2 linked regions of the Homo sapiens genome follow. The gene in region 1 interacts genetically with each later gene. Each region holds a gene or a part of one and is shown on either strand. Other genes may lie near its edges. The genes, in order: KCND3 and SERPINE1.

The links.
Region 2: changes in KCND3 (region 1) and SERPINE1 together harm fitness more than expected from each alone (negative genetic interaction), as found in Homo sapiens cells (one study listed by BioGRID).

What each region holds. Positions count from the first base shown.
Region 1 is NC_000001.11:111,979,669-111,986,668, reverse strand, and holds part of KCND3 (A-type voltage-gated potassium channel KCND3), read left to right. Parts: intron 1-3,870; 5' UTR 3,871-3,942; coding exon 3,943-5,048; intron 5,049-7,000. UniProt on the Homo sapiens protein: Pore-forming (alpha) subunit of voltage-gated A-type potassium channels that mediates transmembrane potassium transport in excitable membranes, in brain and heart. In cardiomyocytes, may generate the transient outward potassium current I(To).
Region 2 is NC_000007.14:101,118,480-101,134,456, reverse strand, and holds the start of SERPINE1 (plasminogen activator inhibitor 1 isoform 2 precursor), read right to left. Parts: upstream 7,354-15,977; 5' UTR 7,213-7,353; intron 6,065-7,212; 5' UTR 6,064-6,064; coding exon 5,793-6,063; coding exon of another isoform or gene 5,769-5,792; intron 4,037-5,768; coding exon 3,803-4,036; intron 2,583-3,802; coding exon 2,388-2,582; intron 763-2,387; coding exon 564-762; intron 1-563. UniProt on the Homo sapiens protein: Serine protease inhibitor. Inhibits TMPRSS7. Is a primary inhibitor of tissue-type plasminogen activator (PLAT) and urokinase-type plasminogen activator (PLAU).

The sequences.
Region 1 (7,000 bases):
AGTGGAATCAGGGATCATTTGAGCCAAAGGGTCTTTTGTCATGTTCCTGTCCAATTCTTCTCATTTTACAGAGGAAGACTCTGAGGCCCAGAGGGTGATCATGGCTTGCTTTCACAAATTGAGGATGGGACTGAAACTGGAATTGCAAGGCCTCATGAGCCCTTGCTCATTGCTGCCTGGGGAAGACAGGGAAAGGAATCTCTGCATCTTGCTGTCTTCTCTTGGGAACATCAGTATTGGGCAACACCTAGATCAGGAAAGCCATTTGGCAGTGAGGTGATCAATGGTCTGTTTGAAAATTGTCAGCTCCCATATACACAGAACTTAGCCACTTTGAAAGAGACTTCTGAGCTTCCTTCTCCTTACCTGTAACCTTTGGGCAGAAAAGCCTTTATCATAGGATTTTAGTGGGAATAAATTAAATGTTGTGTGTAAAAGTGTCTCAGACAGTGTCCAGAGCATTGTCAGTGTTCAATAAATGTTAACCAACTCTGAATTGGAACAGAGTTGAACTTGTGAGCTTGCTTCTCAAACATCCCTTGCCCCTTAGAAATAAATCCTAGCTAAGTGCATGCTGAGGAACTACTAAGTCTCCTAATCCTAAACAAAGTATAGTTAGAAGGGTAAATTTCTTCTAGAAAGAAATACAATGCAGGATGTGTTCCTGACTCTTCTATCAGTAGCATGTGGATTACCCACTGCCATGCATGAACGACCTCCATTCTTTCCTCAGTTCCTCAGTTCCTCAGTTCCAGTAATCAGCTCATCAGGCCTGTGCTGTTTTTCTGTTCTCTGAGCAGTGACGCTTACGGGAAATGTCATTGTCATTCCTATTGTCTTCTGCAGCATCTGACTCAACCTCCCTTTATTAGGGAGAGAAGGGACCTGTGACAATTTCCTTTAGCATGCAGATGGGGAAACTGAGGCAGAGATTGGCTTCTTTAGAAAACTCGACTGAGTGAGTCAGAGGCAGATACTTGAATTGGATTCTTCTGATTCAGATCTGTCTTCAGATTTTACTCTGGAGAAAGAACGCTCACCCTTGGCAACCCCTGAAATATATTAGCAAGGCATAGAGTAAAGTTGATGGGAAAAAAAATGGCACATATAAAACCAGGGGTCCCAGCTCGAGCACCTACTGATGCAGTTCACTATGCTGCCTCCTGGGTTGTGATACAAAAGTGGAGGCATCTCGGCCTTTGCCCGAAAGAGCTTAGTGTGGGATAGGGAAAGTTGGGAAGTGGTCTGGCTGTACTCTTGAACTCCACATTGAGACTGCCTGGGTTTAATGGCGCCGCCTACTTATTACATCCTTTAGACAATTATTACAACTCCTTATGCTTCATCTTTCTTTTGTGGGCAAAACATGGCCTACAGTGGTGTCTACCCCTCAGGGTTGTCGGTGGGATCTCTTGAGACGCTCCATGTAAGTGTGTGGTACTGTGCCTGGCACACCATCAGCCCTCAGCAGACTGCCTGAGATGGAATCCCTATTCTGCCACTTTGGGGTTGTCAGACTGCTATGTCTCAGTAAGCTTTAGCTTTCCTTATCTATGAAATGGGGGACACAACAGACTCTTCTTCCTAGGGTTGCTGTGAGGGTTAAATGAGATAATCCATGGGAGACAGTGTAATGCCTTGCATAGCGTAAGTGCTCAATTGTTAGTCATTACTATTAATTAAGATGTATATAAAGTGTGTGTAATCCTAGCTGCGGGGTGATAGGTGCTAGGGAAGAGGGGCAAACAACGAGTCAAGAGCCCAAAGGAAGAAGAGAATCTCATAGTGAGGAGAGGAGGAAGCATCACAGAGAGAGTGATGAATAGGTAGGATTCTAATAGGAGGGGTCCAGGGGAAGGATATTCTCATGAGAGGGAGGAGTGGTCCAGAGGCAGACCTCCCCAGGGTCTGTCCATGAACAGGTCTTGGTCTTATTGCTGGATACTAGGATGGGTGCCTGGGCCATTGGGCTGGAGTATGAAGCTAGGATCTATTTGTGGGAATTCTGGAATGCCAGGCCAAGGAGTTTGGACTTTATTTTGTAGGTCGTGGGGTAAAATACAATCAGAACCTTGCTTTAGGGAGATAACACTGAGCAGAATGGATTTCAGGGGAATAGGAGAAACCGGGTGGGGTGTGAGAGTGAGAGACAAGAAGGCCCGTGGGAAGGAGGCCAGAGGGAGTTTGGGCCTTCATGAGGGCAGTAAGAACTATTGCCTATTATTTGGCAACTCTTTAGAGAAAAATGGTCAAGGTGACAGCCCTGCAGTTAGGGACGTCATGAAGAAAAGGCGAACAGCAGCTTTTTACAAGGAGGCAGGTTCTGTTTAAACCTGTCCACTTCAGAGGCATCTGAGCAGAAAAGTCCAGTGGCAGCTCAGGAGTTTGAGGGAGGTAGAGATCTGAAAAAACTCAAAGAGTTGGGAGTCAGGAGAAGGTGAAGCAGGTTTATAGGGAGAGATGAAGATCGACTCCCATTACAAGTCTTCGTGTAACAGAAAAAATTTTCCAAGACTCACCTCTTCCTCGTTTATTTAAACTTAGAATCACAGCAGCTGAATTCCAGAGGGCCCAAATAATTCCAAGTTAGGATTTGTTCTGTGTGATCAGTTTAGGATTAGTGGAGATGAGTGTGTCAACCCCAAACAATTTCCAATTTCTGTTACGTGTGTTTCCGTGTCACCACATGCCTTCCCACAGATGGTATACATTTGGGGACTGCAGAGTGATTTCACTATCATCTTTAAAAAGCCAGATTTGGGAAGGTAAATCTGCTTCCCAAAGCCAAATATAATTCTCCGTGCCATTGCTCCCTCTGTCCACACAGGTAATGGGGAAGTGCTTATGCAGTGTGGTTTAGAGAGGTGAAGGGACAGGGTAGCCTGGCTCTGGAAAAATCTCTGAGGGTGGAGTGGGGACCAGGTGAGAGAGGCTGGTATGGGAAGGAGTGTTGTTATATAACCTGAGGGAGTTATGGATGGTGGGCAGATGGAGATGGGAGGAGAGGAATCTAGGGACGGCAGTGAGCGCGGATCGGCTTCTTCTGGGGAGGGAGAGAGACGATGCATGGAAGTCAGGTGAACCAAGAAGCCAAGACGCCCTTCACAGAGCAGGGAAAGAGACCCTGCCCAGCCTCACAACCCTTCCCACGTCTTTCCATCATGGCTCTGAGGGTCTGAGGGGAAAAATTTGATACTAGGTTGCTAGGGCAAGGAGTAGGGGCTAAGTGTCCCTCAGAGTAGCACTTTGCCAGGGAGAGCCTTCTCCATGGGAGTTGGGGACAGAACCTCACCAATCCTGGTGGTCACCTGCCATCTCAGAGAATTTTCTGGACTTGGGCAGCCCCAGCCTCTTCCTCACTAGGGAGGAGTAGAAAGAATTGTTTACCTGATCTCACTCATCTACACCCCGTTCCTGATTACCCCAGTGGGTGAAAGAGTGAAATAAAAATTAGCATGTTTATCCCACTTTTAAATTCATTTAATGAGAACTCATCTACCCTCTCCCAATTTAAATTGGTAATAACGCCATAACCTTTCAGAGCTGATTATTACCCACGTCTTGCCAGATCTTCCTGCTAAAGAGGCCTTCCCTCCAAATGCTCTTGAGCCCTCTTGGAGCTTGACGATTTGTCAGGCAGTCAGCAACATCTGGCGATCCCACCCTGCCGAGCTCCAGGAGCTAGGTGTTCTCCCAGTGTCTGGATGGCAAAGAATCAAGTCCCCTCTCTGTGGTGGGGATTTCAGTTTTATTAATCTGCCCTGGAGACTTTGGCCGTTTCACTCACCAGTGATCCTTTCCTGTGTCCCATTTCTTACCTGCCAGTCGATATGGACTCACCGCTTCTCTCTCTCCCCTCCTGTCTCCCAGGGTTTGCTGAACTAACTCCAAGCTGGTGTGCCTAGCGTCCGCGCGGCTGCCGGCCCAAGAGCTGGAGTCACCATGGCGGCCGGAGTTGCGGCCTGGCTGCCTTTTGCCCGGGCTGCGGCCATCGGGTGGATGCCGGTGGCCAACTGCCCCATGCCCCTGGCCCCGGCCGACAAGAACAAGCGGCAGGATGAGCTGATTGTCCTCAACGTGAGTGGGCGGAGGTTCCAGACCTGGAGGACCACGCTGGAGCGCTACCCGGACACCCTGCTGGGCAGCACGGAGAAGGAGTTCTTCTTCAACGAGGACACCAAGGAGTACTTCTTCGACCGGGACCCCGAGGTGTTCCGCTGCGTGCTCAACTTCTACCGCACGGGGAAGCTGCACTACCCGCGCTACGAGTGCATCTCTGCCTACGACGACGAGCTGGCCTTCTACGGCATCCTCCCGGAGATCATCGGGGACTGCTGCTACGAGGAGTACAAGGACCGCAAGAGGGAGAACGCCGAGCGGCTCATGGACGACAACGACTCGGAGAACAACCAGGAGTCCATGCCCTCGCTCAGCTTCCGCCAGACCATGTGGCGGGCCTTCGAGAACCCCCACACCAGCACGCTGGCCCTGGTCTTCTACTACGTGACTGGCTTCTTCATCGCTGTCTCGGTCATCACCAACGTGGTGGAGACGGTGCCGTGCGGCACGGTCCCGGGCAGCAAGGAGCTGCCGTGCGGGGAGCGCTACTCGGTGGCCTTCTTCTGCCTGGACACGGCGTGCGTCATGATCTTCACCGTGGAGTACCTCCTGCGGCTCTTCGCGGCTCCCAGCCGCTACCGCTTCATCCGCAGCGTCATGAGCATCATCGACGTGGTGGCCATCATGCCCTACTACATCGGTCTGGTCATGACCAACAACGAGGACGTGTCCGGCGCCTTCGTCACGCTCCGGGTCTTCCGCGTCTTCAGGATCTTCAAGTTTTCCCGCCACTCCCAGGGCCTGCGGATCCTGGGCTACACACTGAAGAGCTGTGCCTCCGAACTGGGCTTTCTTCTCTTCTCCCTCACCATGGCCATCATCATCTTTGCCACTGTGATGTTTTATGCCGAGAAGGGCTCCTCGGCCAGCAAGTTCACAAGCATCCCTGCCTCGTTTTGGTACACCATTGTCACCATGACCACACTGGGGTAAGTCAGCGCTGGTGGATGAAACCAGGACGGAGGTTGGAGGGCAGCTGGATGACCTCTGAAACCTTGGATGGTGTCACCATGGGTAGAGGAGGAGGGAGTCCCTTACCCAAGTGTTGGGGGCAGGGGAAGTTGCTCTATCCGAAGGGTAAAGCCCATGAGTCATCTGTTTGGGGGTGGTAGCTTGCTGGGAATTGAGTTTTCTTTTTGAGGTCGGGGCATGTGTTTTATAGAGCTAAGAAAATTAAGTCACCAATTCTTTTTTCAGCCATGCCTTGTGTGCGTGTGAAGTCTCGGGGTGAGGTGATGTCTGCATTTGTATATGCATTTGCGCATATGGGGCAGCGTGGGGAGAAGGTCAGGGCAGTTGTTGGGGAGGGAGGAGACTGTTGAGAAGTTCGGAGGGTTCAGATGTCCATTACCAGAAGACACCAAGAGCACTCTTTTTGGATCCTTTCTGCATTTTTTCTTTGTAGTATATTTTGCAGGCCATTTTCCCATTTGTTATGCTTTTCTCCTGTGCTGCCACAGACACTCAAGCGTTCAGTAGCTCTGAGCAGACTTTCTCTAAGTGACTCTGAACCTGGATTTTTCGCAGTAAGGCACGTGGTTTATTCTTTCTTTCTAAAGCAGTATCAGTCTTGCTTTTTAGTCTGAGTCAGTGATTGAATGACCTGGGTGACTGTGAGATGGTCTGAATGGATCATGTGGTCAGACACAGAAGCAGCAATATCATCAGAAGGAGGGACAGGTGCTCGGTGAGGTCATGGTAATTCCGTCTCTCCGAGGTCTCCTCTCCAGCTGAGGTCACAGAAATGTATTCATGATGCTGGGATGTGAAGCTTTCCATCAGAGGAAGGGGGCTCAGGAAGGAGATTACAGTCTTCACCCTAGCAGGATTATAGCCAATAAAGGTGGCTTTATGGAAACATAGATTTCTTAGGGGTTTCTGCCTCAGCTATTAGAAACCATGGAGCCTAATGCAAAATCCCTCCACAATTCATATACTGGGTCTATATTTGCTTAGGCTAGGAAGCGTTATATTGCTGATGGAGAATTCATGAAGCTTTTTATTTTGTCTTTGACAGTGTGGTTGGTGGTGTCCTGGTGATTTGATTTTTTTTTTTCCTGGCCAAAACCCAGAGGCAATAGTGTTGGTTTTTCCATAGTGCTGCGTATGCTTATTGGGAATGACTGAGCAGGTGACGAGACCTTTTAAAATGATTACATTTGTCATTCTGCCACACACAAGAGGGAGGGAGTAGCAAGGGGAAGAGCAAGGGTGTCACCATCCATTTGTGAAGGCCACATTTGATTGGGGCATTCCCTTTACTTCTTATCTGTCTGACAGAACCACCCTGCCCCTTCCTCCCACTCCAACCCACACACACACACACACACACACACACACACACACTCTTCAAATGGCTGCTCACCCAGAGTGGGTAAGAATGTTTGGTCATTTGACCTTGTTTCTCTTGGCTCAGGTGGCAGATGTGGGCTTTTTGGCACAGTGGGGTATTTTGGAGATAAAATGGACTGGAGAGCTTGTGCTGTCAAGAGGTCGTCTTTATCCCTTTTAGGCTGACCCTAGCCATCCCTTCACCTTCCTGAAGGGGACCTCACCCATGGCCAGACACCTCACTTCCACTTCTAGTCAAGCTCCTGATGTGGCTCTGACTGCCCAGTGCCCTCAGATGCCCCTTGATGGGACTCATGACATCAGAGAGATCCTTCAGGATAGCCATGTGGAGGAAAACAGGCATGGTGATAGCCACCTACTCATTACTTTTTATTAGTAGTATAACAGCATATGATTGTCTACTATATGTCAGCAGTGTACTAAGAACTTTGCATATATTATCTCTTTAAGTTTTTACAACAGCCCTGCAAGGTTGGAAAAAATTCTGTACCCTATAAAGATGCAGAAGCTGAGGCTCAGAGAGACTATA
Region 2 (15,977 bases), on another chromosome or scaffold:
AATTTGGGATGAGCGTGGTGGGAGGCTTCCCTATAATTCTGGAGTTCCCCAGCTCCAGCCTTCTCCTTCTGCAGAAAGATTTCAAAAAATCTCTTTGCTTCCTTCTGCAGAAGGATTTCGAAAAATCTGCTTTCTTGGAACCCCAGCTAGAAGCTGCGCTTTGAGCTGCTCCGTCCTTGGAAGTGATTTCTTTTGTTTGGATGTTGACTTGAAAGGGTTGGGGATGGAAGTGCTGATGGGGCGACCCTAAGTAGATGTGGACTGATTGGGCCCCCACCTCCCTCATTTCTCTGACTCTCCTTTTGGGGGCTTTTGCTGGGTATTCTGGGGATAGTCAATGTGGGGGTGTGGTCAGGAAGAGCTGTCCCCTGCCCTCCAGCAGAAACAGGGGGAGGGATGATTGCAAGACTCATAATCAAACCCAGGCCACAGTTTCCCATCAGCCTCCCACACATGCATGTCCTGCAAGCATCACAGATCTGGGAAATTCAACCTGGGGGCGGTGACTTTAGGGAGCCAGGAGAGAGGGGTTGGTAGGTCGGGGAGATAGCGGGGTGGCTTACTTGGGCAGAACCAGGAGGCGGGGCAGCCTGGTCATGTTGCCTTTCCAGTGGCTGATGAGCTGGGCACTCAGAATGTTGGTGAGGGCAGAGAGAGGCACCTCTTTTTCATAAGGGGCAGCAATGAACATGCTGAGGGTGTCCCCGTGGTAGGGCAGTTCCAGGATGTCGTAGTAATGGCCATCGGGCGTGGTGAACTCAGCTGTGAAGACGACAAGATGGTTCGTTGGAAATGGCTCCAGCTCTCGCTGATGGCAACCCAGCACTGGGTTTTCACCTAGTTCTCCTGGCTTCTCCACTATTTCTGGAAGCCAGGCTCTCTCTCGCTCTTGGCTTTTGGGTATCCCCTGTTCACTGCTCCCCTATTCAGTATTTTAATTTCTATTTCCCTTCTCTTCTGCCAATTCAGTATCTTCTAATTTCTCTCTCTCTGTGTGTGTGCATGTGTGTGTGTGTGTGTGTGTGTGTAAGAGACAGGGTCTCACTGTCACACAGACTGGAGCGCAGTGGTGCAATCATAGCTCACTGCAGCCTCCGAATCCGGTTCAAATGTTCCTCCCGCCTCAGCTTCTGTATTTTGTTTGTTTGTTTGTTTGTTTGTTTTGAGAAGGAGTCTCACTCTGTCGCCCAGGCTGGAGTGCAATGGCATGATCTCGGCTCACTGCAACCTCCCCCTCCCGGGTTCAATAGATTCTCCCACCTCAGCCTCCTGAGTAGCTGGAATTACAGGCACCTGCTATCATGCCCAGCTAATTTTTGTATTTTTATACAGATGGGGTTTCACCATGTTGGCCAGGCTGGTCTTGAACTCCTGACCTCAGGTCATCCACCCGCCTTGACCTCCCAAAGTGCTGGGAATACAGGCGTGAGCCACCGTGCCTGGCCTCACCTCAGCTTCTTGAGTAGACTACAGATGCATGTCACCAAGCCTGGCTAATTAAAAAAAATTTTTTTTTTGTAGAGGCAGGGTCTTGCTATGCTGCCCAGACTGGTATTCAACTTCTGGCCTCAAGCAATCCCCCTTCTCAGCCTCCCAAAGTGCTGGGATTATAGGCGTGAGTCGCCGCGCCAGGCCTTCTCTGTCTCTTTTGGCCTTCCTTCACTTCCATTTTCCCCACACCCAGCCACCAGTTCATCCCAGTCCTCATCCTTTTTTTTTTTTTTTTTTTTTTGAATGGAATTTCACTCTTTTGCCCAGGCTGGGGTGAAGTGGCTCAATTTCGTTCGGCTCACTGCAACCTCCACCTCCCGGGCTCAAGTGATTCTCCTGCCTCAGCCTCCCGAGTAGCTGGGATTACAGGCGCCTGCCACCACACCTGGCTAATTTTTGCATTTTTAGTAGAGACAGGGTTTCACCATGTTGGCCAGGCTGGTCTCAAACTCCTGACCTCAAACTCCTGATCCACCTGCCTTGGCCTCCCAAAGTGCTGGGATTACAGGCGTGAGCCACAGCACCTGGAGTCCTCATCCTCTTAACCTCAACTCCCCCAGCAGGATTTCTCATCCCCAGGTAATCACACTAGCAACACACGAAGATGAGACCCTGGAGTCAGGTGGACAAATGTGGCCCTGAGGGAATCTCTGGATTTCAGCTTCTTCATCCTTCATGGGATAAACCTCCTGTCTTCTGTTCCCATTATCCTGATGTCTCCTGCTTGGGAAATCTTTGTCAAAGCTGGAGTATATTCTAGGGTCTCTCCTCCCTTAAAGGGGAGCATTCCCTGTGGTCTTCCTCCCTCAGAGGGTGACATTTTGGGTATTCCTTGGGAGACCCCAGGAATGAGATGCAGTTGCTGTGGGCTGTGGGGAAGGGGCTCTTGGACTTACTATAGTTGAACTTGTTGGTCTGAGCCATCATGGGCACAGAGACAGTGCTGCCGTCTGATTTGTGGAAGAGGCGGCGGTGGGTGCTGGAGTCGGGGAAGGGAGTCTTCCACTGGCCGTTGAAGTAGAGGGCATTCACCAGCACCAGCCGTGTCAGCTGGTCCACGGCTCCTTTCCCAAGCAAGTTGCTGATCATACCTATGGGAAAATCAATGATCAGGAAGATCAGGAAGTTAGACGATTTTGTTGTTGTTGTTGTTGTTGTTTTGAGATGGAGTCTCACTCTATTGCCAGGCTGGAGTGCAGTGGCGCGATCTCGGCTCGCTGCAACCTCTGTCTCCGGGGTTCAAGCAATTCTCCTGCCTCAGCCTCCCGAATAGCTGGGATTACAGGCGCCTGCCACCATGCCTGGCTAATTTTTGTATTTTTAGTAGAGACGGGGTTTCACCATGTTGGTCAGGCTCGTCTCAAACTCCTGACCTTTTGATCCACCTGCCTTAGCCTCCCAAAGTGCTGGGATTACAGGTGTGAGCCACCATGCCCGGCTGAAGTTAGACAAAGTTTTTAAGCCTTTTAGATGTTTCCCGGAGTCCCCAGTCCTCAATTGGATGTATGTCAAAGGGCTGCAGTCAGGGGTTTAAATGAACCCGTCTAGTTCCTTTTTTTGGAGACAAAGTCTTGCTCTGTCACCCAGGCTGGAGTGCAGTGGCATGATCTCAGCTCACTGCAGCCTCTGCCTCCCGGGTTCAAGTGATTCTTTGAACCTCATCCTCCCGAGCAGCTGGGATTATAGGCATGCGCCAACACACCTGGCTAATTTTTTGTATTTTTGACAGAGACAGGGTTTCACCATGTTGGCCAGGCTGGTCTCGAACTCCTGTGCTCAGGCAATCTGCCCGCCTTGGCCTCTCAAAGTGCTAGGATTAGAGGCGTGAGCCACCGTGCCCAGCCTAAGATTTGGTTCTTAAAGCATCCAGCCCTTTGTCCATAGAGAAGAGAATGCTGAAAAGGAGCATTTTTTAGGATATGTGGATTTGGTTTTTGTTTGTTTTTTAGAGATGAGGTCTTGTTCTGTGACCCAGGCTGGAGTGTGGTGGTGCAAACATAGCTCACTGCAGCCTTGAACTGCTGGACTCAAGTGATCCTCCCACCTCAGCCTCCCAAGTAGCTGGGACTACAGGTGTGCACCACCATGCCCGGCTGGTTTTTAAATTTTTTGAAGAGATGAGGTCTTGTTATGTTGGCCAGGCTGGTCTCAAACTCCAGGCCTCAAGCCTTCCTCTCGCCTAGACCTCCCAAAGTGTTGGGCTGGGATTACAGGTGTGAACTACTGCACCCAACTGGGATATGTGGATTTATTTCCAAATTCCCTTTCTCTTGAGGCCCAGGAAATGGGTTTCCTTTCCCTGCCTGCTCACCTTTTGTGTGTGTCTTCACCCAGTCATTGATGATGAATCTGGCTCTCTCCACCTCTGAAAAGTCCACTTGCTTGACCGTGCTCCGGAACAGCCTGAAGAAGTGGGGCATGAAGCCCTGGACCAGCTTCAGATCCCGCTGGACGAAGATCGCGTCTGTGGTGCTGATCTCATCCTTGTTCCATGGCCCCATGAGCTCCTTGTACAGATGCCGGAGGGCGGGGGCCATGCCCTTGTCTGCACCGGGACAGAGAGGAGAGGACATGTGAGGCTTATGCTGAATTGAGGGTTCCCAGCCGAGCCCACTTCCCCCACAAGGGGCTCCACTCTGATGGATGGGGGCTACCGTGCTTTCCCAGGGCTCTCTGGAGGGAGATTTCATTCCAGGATGAAATCTCTTTTCTGTATCTCCTTCCTTTCTTCAAAAGTCTCAGATCCCAACCCTTTCTTTGGGCTAGAATATTTTTCTCTGTTCTTAAATTATGAACCCTAAATATTTTCTTCCTGTTTTTTTTTTTTTTTTTTTTTTGAGTTGGAGTTTTGCTCTTGTCTCCCAGGCTGGAGTGCAATGGCGCGATGTCAGCTTACTGCAACCTCTGCCTCCTGGATGAACCCTAAATATTTTCTTTCTTCTTCTTTTTCTTTTTTTTTTTTTTTCAGACAGGGCTTCCCTTTGTTGCCCAGGCTGAAGTGCAGTGGTACAATCATAGCTCACTGCAGCCTCCAGCTCCTGGGCTCAAGCCATCCTCCCACCTCAGCCTCCTGAGTAGTTGGGACTACAGGTATGTGTCACCACATCTGGCTAATTTGTAAATTTTTTTGTAGAGGCAGGGGTCTCCCTGTTGCTCAGTCTTGTCTCGAACTTCTGGCCTCAAGTGATCCTCCTGCCTCAATCTTCCAAAGTGCTGAAATTACAGTCATAAGCCACCTTGCCTGGCCTTAGTTTTTTTTTTCTTTTCCTTTCTTTCTTTGTTTCTTTGTTTCTTTCTTTCTTTCTCTCTCTCTCTTTCTTTCTTTCTTCTTCTTTCTTTCTCTCTCTTCTCTCTCTCTCTCTCTTTCTTTTCTTTTTTTTGACAGGTCTCACTCTGTCACCCAGGCTGGAGTGCAATGGTGTGATCTCAGCTCACTGCCACCTCCACCTCCCGGGTTAAAGTGATTCTTGTGTCTCAGCTTCCTGAGTAGCTGGGATTACAGGTGCACCACCTCATCAGACTAATTTTTATATTTTTATTAGAGACGGGGTTTCACCGTATTGCCCAGGCTGGCCTTGAACTCCTAGCCTTGGGTGATCCTCCTGCCTCAAACTCCGAAAGTGCTGAGATTACAGGCATGAGGCACTGTGCCTGGCCTTAGATTTTTTTCCTATAGTGATGGCTATGCTAAGTATTTCACAAGTGTAATTCCATGAATTCTTTTATTTTTTTTTTTTGAGACGGAGTCTCTCTCTGTCGCCCAGGCTGGAGTGCAGTGGCACGATCTCAGCTCACTGCAAGCTCTGCCTCCTGGGTTCATGCCATTCTCCTGCCTCAGCCTCCCGAGTAGCTGGGACTACAGGCGCCTGCCACCACGCCTGGCTAATTTTTTTTGTATTTTTAGTAGAGATGGAGTTTCACTGTGTTAGCCAGGATGGTCTTGATCTCCTGACCTCATGATCCGCCCGCCTTGGCCTCCCAAAGTGCTGGGATTACAGGCGTTTGAGCCACCGCGCCCGGCTCATGAATTCTTTAGGACAGCAAATAATCCTCATTTTGTAGATGGGCAAACTTAACGAGGTTAAGATCACACGGTGGTGAATAAGCGGTAAATCTACTGGTCAGACACCCTTGGAGATTCAAGGGTCCAGTGACTTGGAGTGTAGTGGGAAGAAGATGGGGTGGCCCCTGCAGCACAGCTGTATGGGGCTTGGCTCGGCTAAGCCAGAGCCAGCCTTTCCTTGGCTTCTGGTAGGTCTGTTCTGCATGCCACCCACCTCCCCTGGTGTCCCGTGGCTCACCATCAATCTTGAATCCCATAGCTGCTTGAATCTGCTGCTGGGTTTCTCCTCCTGTTGTCAGCTGGAGCATGGCCAACACCGAGGCCACCCCATAGGGTGAGAAAACCACGTTGCGGTCCTTGGAGGCCTGCGCCACCTGCTGAAACACCCTCACCCCGAAGTCTGAGGCCAGGTGGGCCACGTAGGATGGGGGATGGTGCACAGCAGACCCTTCACCAAAGACAAGGGCCAGGCCCAGGACTAGGCAGGTGAGGGCTGGAGACATCTGCATCCTAGAGCAATGGAAAGAGGGCTGGTGAAGGAATCGTTCTGGAAGACAGGCGGGAGGGGAGGGGAGCTGGCCAGCTGTGGGCCCTGCTCTTCTTGTTTCCTGCAAGCAGGTGGTAAGTGAACACTAGGGCAAGGTGCAGGAAGAGACCATGACATGTTCAGGTTCTAAGCCCATCCCACTCCGTCTCACTCAGACTGACTTATCCCCGGGCAGTGGCAGGGAGTCTTCGCCCATCTTGCCCTGTGGGAATCTTGGAATCCAGTCCATCTCCCTTCCCTCTGTGTCCCGTAAAAAAGCCTTAGAAGAAAAGCAGGTGAGAAGTCATTACCACTCTCTGCCTTTGCAGCCCAGGGGGAATTTAGCCCAGACTCAATTATCAATTATCACAACATCTTTGATTTGCATAAGCTTTAAATTTGCTTTCTTTTCTTTTCTTTCTTTTCTTTCTTTCTTCCTCTTTCCTCTTTCTTTCTTTCTTTCTTCTTTACTTCCTTCCTTCTTTCCTCTCTCTCTTTCTCTCTCTTTCTTCCTTCCTTTCATTCATTTTTAGAGACAGGGTCTTGCTCTGTCACCCAGGCTGGGTGCAATGGCTCAGTCTTGGCTCCCTGCAGCCTCCGCCTCCCCAGCTGAAGCAATCCTCCCACCTCAGCCTCCCAAGTAGCTGGGAATACAGGCACACCAGCACGCCCAGCTAATTTTTGTATTTTTTTGGGAGAGCAGGGTTTTGCCATGTTGCCCAGGCTGGTCTCAAACTCCTGGGCTCAAGTTATCTGCCTGCCTCAGCCTCACAAAGTGCTGGGATTACAGGCATGAGCCACAGTGCCCAGCCTTAATTCTCTTAATGCTTTCCCAGCGATTGTTTCATTCAAGTTAGCAGGCATGAGGTGGGAAATGGGTAAGTGTCTTGATGCAGAGGGACTGAGAGAGTCAAGGTTCTTGTTACTGGGTGATGGGGTTGTTGGTGACGCCTGACCATCCTCCCTGCTCTCCTGCAGTCACCCCTAGGGCAGGGTCGACCCAAGGCTGCAGGTCCGAGGAAAAGAAAATAGAGGAATAGCGGGGGATCATGGAGGGAGGAGATTCTGGGGAGGCGAGTTCTCTGCCTTAAGCCCGAAGTAAGAGGTTGGAGGGAGTTTGCTTTTCTCCTACCTGAAGTTCTCAGAGGTGCCTTGCGATTGGCGGTTCGTCCTGCTCTGGCGGCGGCTGCTGAGCTGCAGGAATTCAGCTGCTGGAGGGGGGCGTGTGGGTCTTCTTGACAGCGCTCTTGGCCCTGCAGCCAAACACAGCTGTGCTCCTCTGTGGGCCACTGCCTCCTTTTATACCAGATGTGGGCAGGAAATAGATGAACTCATGTTCCAGCCCCACCCACTCACTGGCTCTGGGAGTCCGTCTGAACAGCCAGCGGGTCCCCCTCGACACCTCCCTCTCTGGGACTTGCTGAGGCATGTGTGTGTGTGTGTGTGTGCTGCTCTGTGTGTGTACGTGTGTAAGAGCATTCAGGAACAATTGAGCAAACCCCAATAGCCTTGGCCTGAGAACCTCCCTTGACCTTTCTGCCCTCTGCCTGTGTCTGTCTCTCCCGGATGTCCTGCCAGGTTGACTGTCTGCCATGCCGGGTGACCCAAAAAGCCTAGGACCCCTAGTGTTCAGCTTGGAGAAAAAAAAAACAGCTCACGTTGCCTGCTTTTCCTTTGGCGAACCAGGTCACTGTGGAGTTATCAAAGATAACCTCCATCAAAACGTGGAAGTTTTCCCCCAGGGCTGTCCACCCGGTGCTCTGGACCACCTCCAGGAAAGAGCGCCCCTCCCTCCTCCTGGGCCCAGCCCAACAGCCACAGGGCATGCAGCCAGCCACGTGATTGTCTAGGTTTTGTCTGTCTAGGACTTGGGCCCAACAGAGGACTCTTGGTCTTTCCCTCATCCCTGCCATGTGCCCGGCCGCCTCCGATGATACACGGCTGACTCCCCACGTGTCCAGACTCTCTCTGTGCCCCTGAGGGCTCTCTTGTGTCAACAACCTTGTCTGGCTGAGGTTGGAGGTGTGCTGGGTGGGGTGGTGGTGGCTGAACGGGACCAGGGGTTACCATGGTAAAAGCTTGGTAAGGAAACAGGAGACCAACGTGTAAGTTTCACTTCTTCGAGCTGCCCGCTAGGACTTGGGGCAGCTTGTCCTTTATCCTCTTCCTCCAGACACAGACACAAGGGGAAAAGGGATAGAAACAGAGTGTCAATTCATGGCAGGTTTGCAGGGTGTGCTTTTAGGGCAAGGGGGTGAGGGGAGGAAGAGTGACCGATAGATTCTGTGGAGCAGTGGTCCTCAACGTTTTTGGCACCAGGGACTGGTTTCATGGAAGACAATTTTTTCACAGACCAGGGTGGGATGGTTTCGGGATGATTCAAGCACATTACATTTATTGTGTGCTTTATTTCTATTATTATTACATTGTAATATATATAATGAAATAATTCCACAATTCACCATCGTGTAGAATCAGTGGGAGCCCTGAGCTTGTTTTCCTGCAACTAGATGGTCCCATCTAGGGGTGATGGGAGACCGTGACAGATCATCAGGCATTAGATTCTCATAGGGAGCTTGCAACCTAGATCCCTCACATGAACAGTTTAGAATAGGGTTCGAGCTCCTATGAGAATCTAATGCCGCCGCTGATCTGACAGGGAGTGGAGCTCTGGTGGTAATGCGAGTGATGAGGAGTGGCTGTAACTACAGATGAAATTTCACTCACCTGCCACTCACCTCCTGTTATGCAGCCTGGTTCCTAACAGGCTATGGACCAGTACGGGCCCCTGGCCCAGAGGTTGGGTACCTCTGCTGTAGAGGGTGGAAACTGGCTAGCAGTGGGTGAGCATGTAGGGCTAGACTAGTGGATTTTGTTGTTGTTGTTGTTTTTTGTTTTTTTTGTTTTTCTGTTTTGAGACGGAGTCTTATTTTGTTGCCCAGGCTGAGTGCAGTAGCACTATCTTGGCTCACTGCAATCTCCGCCTCCCAGGTTCAAGTGGTTCTCCTGCCTCAGCCTCCCGAGTAGCTGGGATTACAGGTGTGCACCACCACGCCCGGCTAATTTTTGTATTTTAGTAGAGACGGGGTTTCACCATGTTGGTCAGGCTGGTCTCGAACTCCTGACTTCGTGATCCGGCTGCCTCGGCCTCCCAAATGCTGGGATTACAGGCATGAGCCACCGCGCCCAGCTGGATTTGGGGTTTTGACAGGGTCAGGTGCCCTTGGCCGTGTGGTCTGGATGTTGTGGATGGAAGGGTGGCCAGGGTGCTGCCCAGGGGGTCCTGTATTGGAGAGATGGCATACTTGGGGTCCACGGACTGTTGGGTTTAGTGTATGTGGTGGGGTTCAGTTGGGAGAATCCATGGCAACAGCTGATAGCAGAGTCACAGGAAGTTTCAGTGGGTGGAAGCGTCGGATGTTTGTTTTGGATTTTTTCAGTAAACAGATACCAAGGGCAACCACACTGAGCAGCCCTCCTGCTTTTTAATCTGCCTTAGGCTTTGTTTTCTCACAGCTGGCAGGGAAAGAGAGGAGAACCACAGTCGGAAAGTTAGGCTCACAGACACATTAGGAGAACTCTTCCTGTGAAACTGCCTCTTGTTTATGTCTTTTTCCTTTTCTTAGTTGTGGTTTGGAGTCCCTGAGAGTGTGGTTAGCGGTGAGGAAGAAGCAACTGCCCTGACCTCTTGGAAGAAGACAAGTCCAGCCCCAAACCCATCTCTTTTTTTTTTTTTTTTTGGAGACAGGGTCTCACTCTGTCACCAAGGCTGGAGTGCAGTCATGTGATCATAGCTCACTGCAGACTTGAACTCCTGGGCTCAAGCAAGTATCGGGGACTACAGGCAAGCACCACCACGCCCAGCTAATTATTATTTTTTCTTATAGAGACAGAGTCTTGCTATGTTGACCAGGCTGGTCTCAAATTCCTGGGCTGGAACAATCCTCTCACCTTTGCCTCCCAAAGTGTATAAGCCAACATGCCCAGTCCCGAACTTAACTCTTGTCCTCAAAAGTACCCCAAGACAGGGCATGGTGGCTCACACCTGTAATCCTAGCACTTCGGGAGGCCAAGGCAGGTGGATCACTTGAGGCCAGGAGTTCAAGACCAGCCCGGCCAATATGATGAAACCCCATCTCTACTAAAAATATAAAAATCAGCTAGGCATGGTGGTGCGTGCCTGTAATCCTAGCTGCTTGGGAGGCTGAGGCAGGAGAATCGCTTGAACCTGGGAGGTGGAGGTTGCAGTGAGCCGAGATCATGCTATTGCACTCCAGCCTGGGTGACAGAGCAAGAATCTGTCTCAAAAAAAAAAAAAAAAAAAGTACCCCGCAAGGCTTTGCTCTCTGACCTTAAGGATCAGAGGGGAACAGGGATCAGGCAGTACCAAGCCTCGAAGACTTGAAAGTTCAATGGGTCTAGACATAGCTAGATGTGGCCTCCTCAGGTGTCTGACGCCAGCCTCTCCAGGCTGCAGCTTAGCCTCCATCCCTTCCTCTGCCTGTCATACCAGGAGCCATTGTCCCATACCTTGCCAGGTCTCTGCTGTTTTCTGTGGACAGCCAGAGCTCTGCAGGAGCAGTCACCAATTTAGTCCCCACTCATAGATTGGGTGGATGATCCTGATGCCAATCCAAAATAGACACCCCTGCTGGGTGTGGTGGCTCACACCTGTAATCCCAGTCTTTGGGGAGGCTGAGGCAGGAAGATCACTTGAGCCCAGGAATTTGAGCCAGCCTGGGCAACACAGTGAGATCCCATCTCTACCAAAAAAAAAAAAAAAATTAGCCCAGTGTGGTGGCGTGTGCCTATGGTCCCAGCTACATGGGAAGCTGAGGTAGGAGGATCGCTTGAGCCTAGGAGCTCAAGGCTGGAGTGAGCTATGATTGCAACACTGCACTCCAGCCTGGGTGACAAAGAGAGACCCTGTCTCAAAGGACAAAGCAAAGAGCAAAAAGGACATTCCATCCTTGGGCACGGGAGAGCTGGGGAGCAGCTCTAGTCCTGATTGGGGTGGAGGGTGGGGAGCGTTTTACTTTGGACTCAGAAGTGGCTGACTTACTAAGAGGTCTTTTCCCAAATCGGTGGAAACTTGTAGGCATAGGGAAGATGTGTATTAGAAACTGAGGCAAAACCTGTGTTATCGGGTCCATGTGAAGTTTCCGATTTCTCCATTGACTCTGATGAGCTGGGGCTGCCTAGCTACTCTAGAACCCAGACTTGGAGTGAAACCCCGTCTCTACTAAAAAAAAAAAAGTACAGAAATTAGCCAGGCATGGCGGCACGTACCTGTAGTCCCAGCTACTCAGGAGCCTGAGGTGGGAGAATCTCTTGAACCCAAGAGGTGGAGGTTGCAGAGAGCTGAGATTGCACCACTGCACTCCAGCTTGAGCGAAAGAGCAAGATTGTCTCAAAAAAATAAATAAATAAAAAGAACCCAGACTTGGCCATGACCCCTGCCTCTACTTCATGCACGTGGCCCTGCCTTCTCTTACCTGCCTTAGGAGCCGAGCCCTTCCATACCAGGGTCCAGCTGCCTGCGGGCTGCTCCCCACCGACCTCTCAGAGAAACCCTCTTCTCAGAATCTGACTCAAGGGGTTATCACTTTCCCCTTTTCCCCTGAATCCTAAGTTCTCTCTTTCTTGATCCAATCCTCTCTTTCCAGCTTGAGCTCTTTTGTAAGGGGTCACACGGGCACAGAAAGAAAAGTCCATGCTGATGAAATAGCTAGATCTCTGGCTTCCGGAGGGTCAGAGATAAGAGAGTGAGTTACCGGGCTGTGGATTTCAGGGGAAAGTTCTGATTCCAGCTACTGGGAAAGATGTCTCCATCTGTCCCTGAGCAGGTGGTTCGTGACTGTAGATCACACTCAGATTTTCCATGACTGTCCCTCTGTCCCCCACCCACTGGTGGGCCCTGGGTGGACACTGGCCTTCCCACCACCCATCGCCCCCTGACCTCCCGCCTTCTGGCCCGATCTCTGCTCTTCCTCTTTGCTTCTGTCTTCCCCGCTTTCTTTTTCACTTTCCCTTTCTCTCTCTGAGCCTCCCGCTTCCTGCTCCCTTCTCTCTGACCTCCTGCCTACCCTTTCTTCCCCGAGCCTTCCCTCCTGTCCCCTCTCCTCCGCTGCAGGAGGTTGCCCCCCATTTCCACTCTCTCTCTCTCTCTCTCTCTGACTCAGTCCCTCTGTCCCTCTGGAATCCCAGAATCCCTTTTACAGTCAAATGCTCAGCTCCCAAGCCCTTCCGGTGGGGAAGAGAGCACTGCCTGTTACACAGGCTCCCTGGAATGTGGGGCCCAGCCTCCCTGATTCCTGGTGATTTCACTGGGAGAGCCGGGGGTTGGAGAAGGCAGGGTCTTGCTAACAGCACTATTTCTGGCTTGGTTGCTCTCCAAACAACACAACTCCAAAAATAGCCTGTGTTTGGGCTCGGCTCTCTCCCCTTCTCTAGGAGGGAACCAGTGCTGGGTGTCTCCACCGCCTTTTTTTTTTTTTTTTTTGAGATGGAGTCTTGCTCTGTTGCCCAGGCTGGAGTGCGGAGGTGTGATCTTGGCTCACTGCATCCTCCGCCTCCCAGGTTCAAGCGATTCTCCTGCCCCAGCCTCCCGAGTAGCTGGGATTATAGTCATGCGCCACCATGCCTGGCTAATTTTTGTATTTTTAGTAGAGACTAGTTTCCCCATGTTGTCCAGGCTGGTCTCGATCTCCTGACCTCATGATCCACCCACCTCGGCCTTCCAAAGTGCTGGGATTATAGGCGTGAGCCACTGCGCCTGGCCCTCCACTGCCTTTTATTTAAGATCGTGGCTCTGGGACAGCCTGTCCAGGGGCCCTTCCTTACCCTGGCTCTGTGACTGACTTCCCCCTCCTCTCCTGCTGTATCCCCTCTCCCCTGCCAGCCCCTGGCCGGTCATTTCTCTTTAAACTCCCTAACACTCTAACTGGTGCTGCCTTACCCAATGTAGCCCTTGCTTGTCCACAATTGCATTTTTTTTTTGAGTGGGGGCCACGTTCTGTTGCCCAGGTGGGAGTGCAGTGGCACAATCATGGCTCCCAGCCTTGGCACAGTCATGACTCACTGCATTTCGACCTCCCAGGCTCAAGAGATCCTCCCATCTCAGCCTCCTGAGGAGTTGCTAGTTGGGACTACAGGTGTGCACCACCATGCCCCGCCAATTTTTTTTTTTTTTTTTTTTTTTTTTTGAGACAAAGTTTCGCTCTTCTTGCCCAGGCTGGAGTGCAATGGTGTGGTCTCAGTTCACTGCAACCTCTACCTCCCAGGCTCAAGCAATTATAGTGCTTCAGCCTCCCAAGTAGCTGGGATTACAGGCATCTGCCATCACGCCCAGCTGATTTTTGTATTTTTAGTAGAGACGGGGTTTCACCATGTTGGCCAGGCTGGTCTTGAACTCCTGACCTCAAGTGATCCGCCTTCCTCAGCCTCTCAAAGTGCTGGGATTACAGATGTGAGCCACTGTGCCCCGCCTAATTTTTTTTTTTTCAGAGATGAGGGTCTCTTTATGTTGCCCAGGCTAGTCTCAAACTCCTGGGCTCAAGGTTGGAGTGCAGTGGTGCCATTTCAGCTTACTGCAGCCTCTACCTCCCGGGATTAAGTGATCCTCCCACCTCAGCCTCCCAGTAGCTGGGACCACAGATGTACACCATGACACCTGGCTAATTTTTTGTATTTTTGGTAGAGACGGGGTTTTGCCACGTTGCCCAGGCTGTTCTTGAACTCCTGAGCTCAAGTGACCGACCTGCCTCAGCCTCCCAAAGTGCTGTGGTTACAGGCATGAGCCACCATGCCTGGCCCTAACCCAGTTCTTTTAATTTACAAGTGAGGGCACTTAGGTCCAGAGAGGTCCACTGTGGTTGAAGCCACACAGTGACTACACCATAAATGAGAGAATAGTGATCATTGGATCAGACAGACCCGGCCACTAGTTAGGAATCTGACATTGGCTATGTGACTAGGTAAAACTTAATCCCTTCTCCTTCTCCTTCTCTTCCTCCTCCTCTTCCTCCCCTCCCCCTCCCTCCCTTCCTTCCTTCCCTATGATTTAGGGATCACAGCCTCAGTATTCTTATTTGTAAAAGACAGATAACGATTCCCATCTTTCAAGGTTGCAATGAGAATTACATAAAACGTCATCTGCCAAATGTCCAACACATTTGGCAAGAACAAATGTTCTCCTTTGTGGCAGCCGCTCTTGGTGGGCAGCAGAGCCAGGACAGGAACCCAGACAGTCTGAGCTGTTCATTTTGATATAATGCAAGCTCCTTGAGGGATGGATGTTTGAGGTGTTTGTTTTTACGTCTCTCAGCATTTAGCGGAGCGTGGGCGTTAAATGCCTCGGAAGTGGGCTGGCTGCTTACCCGAGGGGATGCCTGGCAGCCCCTCTCATCTGTTTCATACCAGATCCTTCTGCTGTCTCCCTGGTCCTGACACGCTCCCATTGGCTGACTTTGCAGGTTTCAGATCCCAGGAAGATATTCCCCTCTGGGCTGCAGGTCATGGATGTACCCCGCTTTTGTCCCAAGTGTATCCTTATTTTCTGAGCATACCAGGGAGGAAGGAGACTTGATTTACCAAAATGGAGTTGAGCTCGACCCACTCTTCCAGGCTAGGCCCCTGCAGCCTCCATCTCCCATCTCTCATCGATTCCTCTATGGCACCTATAATGCTTTAATCACTTAAAAAAAATGTATGCTCTACCATAGCCAATTTTATCTTTTTTTTTTTTTGAGACAGAGTCTCACTCAGTCACCCAAGCTAGAATGCAGTGACGCGATCTCAGCTCACTGCAACCTCCACCTCACGGGTTCAAGCAATTCTCGTGCCTCAGCCTCCTGAGTAGCAGGGACTACAGGCCTGCACAAACATGCCCAACTAATTTTTGGATTTTTAGTAGAGACAGGGTTTCACCATGTTGGCCAGGCTGGTCTCAAACTCCTGAGCTCAACTGATCTTCCCACCTCAGCTTCCCGAAGTGCTGGGTTTACAGGCATGAGCCACCGCGCCCAGTCTATTTTTTTTTTTTTTTTTTAAGATAGGGTCTCACTTTGTTGCCCAGGCTGGAGTGCAGTTGTGTGATCATGGCTCACTGCAGCCTCCAACTCCTGGGCTCAAACAATCCTCTCACCTCAGCCTCCTGAGCAGCTGGGACCACAGGCATGCACGACCACACCCAGCTAATTTTTAGCTTTTATCACTTTTATATATTTGCATTCTCCCTTGTCTTACAGTTATTTCTGTATTTAAACTTATGTGGCCATCAAAGTGTCTTATTTCCTGAGGGCACTTAGTGCTGGGTCTTTTGTAATGTGGGTATTCCAAATGTCCTTTCACCATCAGGCAAGAATGAGCCTTCCTGGCCGGGCACAGTGGCTCATGCCTGTAATCCCAACACTTTAGGAAGCCAAGGTGGCAGGATTGCTTGAGGCCAGGAGTTCGAGACCAGCCTGGGCAACACAGGGAGACCCCCCCCCCCAACCTCTACAAAAAATAAATAAATGAGTCAAGCATGGTGGCATGTGCCTGTAGTCCCAGCTTCTTGGGAGGCTAAGACAGGAGAGTCACTTGAGTCCAGGAGTTTGAGGCTGCAGTGAGCCGTAATTGCATTGCTGCACTCCAGCCTGGGCAACAGAGTGAGACTCTGTCTCAAAAAAAAAAAAAAAAAAAAGAGAAAAGGAATGTGCCCCCAGTGTGGTCACCAAGGGGAATTTCAATGGCAGGGAATGGTGGAGCACCGGGCTCCTGGGGTAGATGTGAACATGGAGCTGATTACGTCAGGCTGATGAGGTAGTGCAGGCCTGCAGGGTGCCTCCAGGCCACTGGCCAGATTCCATCCCTCCATCCACTTCTCTTTACCCACATATGTGGCTTATCTGACTC